Regions from separate parts of the Homo sapiens genome. Here region 2 is linked to region 1. Evidence: fine-mapped expression QTL. Tissue or cell type: tibial nerve. Region 1 holds a variant in brackets; the other region holds the start of a gene. All regions are shown on one strand. Distances are between the middles of the regions.

Evidence for each region. PIP is the estimated chance that this variant, and not a neighbour inherited with it, causes the effect.
Region 2: it holds the start of MICAL3, and the variant in region 1 is fine-mapped to the expression of MICAL3 in tibial nerve (GTEx, PIP 0.92).

Annotation. Positions count from the first base shown.
Region 1 is chr22:17,877,507-17,880,006 of GRCh38, reverse strand. All of the region lies in intron 16 of MICAL3 (microtubule associated monooxygenase, calponin and LIM domain containing 3), which reads left to right. Among named protein-coding and RNA genes, the nearest start is that of LINC00528, 100 kb to the right of the region's middle. The variant G/A (reference allele first, on the strand shown) is at 1,497.
Region 2 is chr22:18,023,446-18,026,191 of GRCh38, reverse strand. It overlaps MICAL3 (microtubule associated monooxygenase, calponin and LIM domain containing 3), which reads left to right and starts at 1,631. Exons shown (of 32, transcript NM_015241.3): 1 at 1,631-1,911. RefSeq lists a silencer at 1,494-1,903.

The DNA of each region.
Region 1 (2,500 bases):
CTTCTGGCTCCTCGGATGAGCAAGGCCATGTCCCTACCTGCAGGTCTTTACCCTTTCACATATACCTTCCCGTCCATTCGCCAAAAACACATTCACTTCTCCCTTTAGTAAATTATGCTTTGGCCCGATGCTCCTATTCAGGAACCACTTCCCACTCTGGAGTTTCCTCTGGACTGCTGTCTTAGTCATTTATTCTAGCCAATTCCCACCTCCCCACCTTTGCTTTCTAAAATGTCTTGTTGTGGAATGTGTCACCCTTTTAACCTGCCTCTCCTTCTAAACCTTCCATTTGATGCCTCTGATCTTATGCCACTGTGTGAAAGAAATATGCTTGTTCCACCTTTGTACTAACCATAGTTCTTCATTGATCCGTGTAGCTGGCCTCGTCGGAGGCCAGTGGGGGGTGGAATGGCTGTGCAGAAAGTCGGCCTTGTGTCATGGGATTTGATACAGATGGGATTATGGTTACCTGGGGATGGGGTTAGTAGGGGAAGGCGATATGTGTTGAACTCTGCATTTCTGCCCCTGAATTTCCCACTGTCGTTTAGTAGGTCCAAATAGAGCGATATGCATGGAGCTTAAGTTTCTACTTTGTTGCCAACAGACATACAGGGATCTTGATGCTGACAACCGTGGCAAGCAGAGCCCCCACCATGAGAGGGTAAAAGAGCATGAACCCGTGGCATGGGATGCTGAGAGCCAAGCACACGGGGCACGCTGTGGTGGTGGGGCAGCGGGAAGGGATATGGGGGACGGCCCCCTCCCCTTGCTTTTTGCACGCTCTTGTCACCCAGCCAAGAGCCAGAATTCTTTTTGCTAGCAGTGTTGACCAATGCAAATAGCATTCACTGTAAAGCAGTCACCCATCTGGCATTCAGATGGGATGCTGATCCTAAATGTGCGTATTGTAAAGGGCCTTAATGACTTCCCATTTCTGCCCACTGTTCCCCTTCCAAGACCATACTATTTCTACCCCCAAACTATGTGCCAGTGGTAGAGTAGTAGCATTGGACTGTCAGATACAACTTCTTAGGGAGAGGGTCTAAATCAGTATTCAAGTGGCATTCAGCAGTCACGGATCTTGAAGTGGAAATCCTAAGAGAGCCAAAGCTCTTACCAGCGTGAGGATTTTTCCAGTGGGATGAGAATGAGGGGGAGAAAGGTAGGTGATGGCAAAATGGGGCTGTACCCGTGGAAAGCTTTAGTCTTTTCTGAAACACTGAGGGGAGAAATTACTGATTGCAGCTGGCCATCGTACAATGTGAGGGATAGCCGAGATGCCCAGTTAAAGAAGCCGGCTTACTTTATGAAACTTTTGTTCTTGTTATTCCTACCCTTAAAGATCTCCAAGTGGGTACAGCTCTGCAGCTAGCGGGAAGAATCATCTCTAGTTGTTAATCTCACAAAAGCCATTTTGGTTTCTAACTCCCTTCTGCCTTTGCTCTCTGAGAAATGCAGTTATGGCCAAGCAGTAAATTAGGTTACCCCTCGGACCC[G/A]ATAGGAGCTAATCATAGTGCCATCTTCCTGCGCCCTCTCACCAGGCTAGCAGCGGGCAATGTGTGTGCTGCCTGAACCTGGTGCTGGGTCGGAGAGTGGAGACTGGGCTGGAGGTGGGGGTCTTTCCCACCCCCTTTCCATGGCCTCGCCCCACGGTGCTCACCCTTTCTGGGGCTGCTCTCCCACGGCGCTGTGTGCCCAGCCTCTTTCTCTCTTCTTCCCAGGCTGTGTCCCCTCAAAAAGGAAAGCAGCCCTTTTCACTGAGCAGGGCAGTGCCCTCCATTTTGCAGATTGTGTATTTAATGAGATGCTGATAATGTTTAATGAAACAGCGCCTAAAAGAAGAAGGGAGGGGAAGGCCGGGTGCGGTGGCTCAGGCCTGTAATCCCAGCACTTTGGGAGGCCGAGGCAGGCAGATCACGAGGTCAGGAGATCGAGACCATCCTGGCTAACACAGTGAAAACCTGTCTCTACTGAAAATACAAAAAAATTAGCCAGGCATGGTGGCGGGTGCCTGTAGTCTCCGCCACTGGGGAGGCTGAGGCAGGAGAATGGCATCAACCCAGGAGGCAGAGCTTGCAGTGAGCCAAGATCGCGCCACTGCACTCCAGCCTGGGCGACAGAGCCAGGGCGACAGAATCAGACTCGGTCTCAAAAAAAAGAAGAAGGGAGGGGAGCATGTTGAATAGGAGAGATTGGCAGTGAGAAACAATTTGAAGTTTAGGGCTGTGGTGCAGAGAGGGGATGAGTTAGGGTTTTTGAGCTCAGGAGGCAATAAGGCTTGCAGAGATGTTTCTCTCTTTTTCCCTCTGAACTGGTTTCTGCACTCCTCAGTGCAGGGCTCCAGGCTGGATACTTTTGAGGACACTACTTAAGTTCTTTTCTTGGACTCTGCTGCCATCCTCCATAACCTCCCTAACCTCCATAACTTCCCTAACCTCCCTAACCTCCATAACCTCCCTCACCTCCATAACCTCCCTCACCTCCCTAACCTCCCTAACCT
Region 2 (2,746 bases), 150 kb before region 1:
TATGGTGGTGCATGCCTGTAGTCCCAGCTATGCAGGAGGCTGAGGCAGGAGAATCGCTTGAACTTGGGAGGCAGAGGTTGCAGTGAGCTGAAATTGCACCACTGCCCTCCAGCCTGGGCAATAGAGCAAGATCCTGACTCAAAAAAAAAAAAAAAACTCCAGCGTCAAAAATAAAATAAAATGAGAAGTAGGAGAAATTATTAGAGATTCTGGACCTTTTAGGGCATTTTTCCCTAATATCCACTCAGGCCGTGCCCAGATGGCCTTGCACCTTCAGCTGTGGCATCAAACAAAACTGGGAATTGCAGCTTTACCACTTATCTCGCTGCATAAGCTTCCACAAGCAAGTTACTTACTGTTTGTGCTTTTAGGTTCTTAATATGTAAAACAATGTTTTACATTAAAAATTAAATGAAATAGCTCCTGAAAAGCCCAGTCACATTGTCAGAGCTCAGTAAAAATGTGTTCCCTTATTCTAGTACTGGGGCAGAACACCTGCAGGTTTGTAGGTGGGGAGACAGTGGACAGAGTGGCTGGGTGATGAAGTGGGGCTCTAGAGGATGAGCAGAGATTGCCTCTGAGCCGACACCCTGGCCCTGTCAGTTCCCGTCCTCACATGATGGACATGAAGGGAACACGAATGAAGCAGATGATGATACGGTTAAGTAAATACCACCTGGGACCAGAGAGAGCCCTTCTCAAGGAGTCGCCAGCCCAGAGTCGGCCCTCTTCTGAGCTGGCCGGCTGGAGTCAATCTGCTTTGGACAACACAGCTTCAGATGGAGATAATACTGAGGCCAATGATCCTTGAAGACAAAATAATCTCTGGGCTTCTTTCTGCTCTGATTATAATGTTGCAATTATACTGAGCAGATGCTGATAGGAATTTGGTCAAATCCATCCCGTCTTCCATCTAACTTATTTTAGTGCCTGGTGGATTTCTGTCCAGCTCCACGGGCTGTGGCAATGCCGGGGCTGGCTGGAAGTGTGGAAGGGGCTGGCTGGAAGTGTGGAAGAGGCTGCCCGGGCTCCGGCATCAAGAGGTTTTCTCCGGTGGGGAGGAGTGCGCGATCTGATCCTTGGAGCGCTTGCAACTGTAGCCCTCCCCCAGGGCTCTGCGCTGATCTCCAGGGTCATCATCATAGTAACAGTAAGAACTTCATTTTATAGCATTTTTCAATCTGTAAGACAACGTCGTGTCCTTTATACCGTTGAAATTTCAATTTCACGACTACTCAGATGTTACGCGACTTGCTCAGTATCCAACACTTGGTTCCTTCACTGGCTCCCGGAGACCTGGGTGCTGAAGCCACTGCAAGGAGGTGTGTGCTCGAACACACAGCGAACACCGACTGCGTGGTTAGCAGGATTCGCTGGGGAAGAGGCCTCAGGAGAGTGCTGGAATTTCCAACCTTCGAGGTGCTAGTAACGTGTGTCGAGGAAGGGGTTGGAGAAGGGGAGAAAATGAAAAGAAGGGGAGAAAATGAAAAGATGGGGAGGAGGAGAAATGGTTTGGGTTTGGTTTTGGCTTGAGCCTCACCCAAGCGTCCCACGCCGCAGCTCCGCGGCCTCCTGGGGGCGCCCGCTCGCGTTGCCACGGCGCTCGCGCGGAGCCGCAGCCCGCCCAGCCAGCAGCGCGCGCTCCTGCAGCCCCGGCGGAGTCCCGGCGGGGAGCGCCCGCGTAGGCAGGCACCCGGGGCAGCCCTCCGTCCTCGCCGCGCGGCCTGAGAACCCCTGGGCCCTGGGCGAGGGGGCTGGGCTGTGCAGCCCCCGAGGCTAACTGGGCGGGATCGCAGCTGCAGGGGTTGTGCGAGCAGCCACGGCGGCACCTGTGCCCTGCGGGCACCCACCCTGCCCCTGCCGAGGCAGGCGCCCACCGCCGGCGGTGATGCGGCTGTGAAGCCCTAGTCGGTGAGTACCCTCCAGTCCCCCTGTGGGCGAGCGAATCTAAATGACAAGGTTATGTGTTTTGCTGGATGTCTTCTAAGAATCATTTATTTAGATTGCTTATGGTGGGGAAGCGTTTCCTTTGTGACATCTTTGTGTTTCTCGGATCTATTTCGTTTCCCTCTAAACGCAGCCCTCTCTCCCCTAGTGGGAAAGACACCCAGTATCCGTGTCTCGATCATCGCACGACACCCACCAGTGCGGATGCCACGTACCACACACTCCCCAGAGCCTGCCAGAGAGCAGGGCTGTCTCCCAGCCACGTCCACCCCATTTTCATTGTGCTTCTATCCCGCAGGCAAAGGAAGAGCGTACCCAGGCACCCCCGAGGTAGGCCAGGTGTCAGGACAGCCAGCAGGCCCTTGGCGAAGCCGGGTCCGCTCTGGCTAGCTCAGCGCGGTGAACCCATGAGCTCATTAGGAGCAGCGGCTGCTTTGCGCGGGGAACGCCGGTTTCCCTGCGGCAGAGGGGCCCTGCACCCGCCCGCGGCGCGCGGTGGTGGCCCAGGACCAGTGGCGCACACGCTTGCGCTCCCAGGCTGCAGGGCGCGCTGCGCCGGCGCAGCTCCCGGGCGTGTGCAACAAAAGGACGGCCAAGTTCATTCCCTCCTGGAAGCAGAGGGCGGGGCCGCATGACTTCTGGAGGCTGCATGTGTCTTAGAATCAAATGGTTATGACTCCATAGCAAAATGCTTTCTGTGTGTCAAGTCCTCTCCGTGCCTGCCAACCCCTTCCCTCCTCTCTCCTCCCTAAAATGCTTTCTTATTGGTCTGGCACTGTGATCAACTATTTAGAATTTT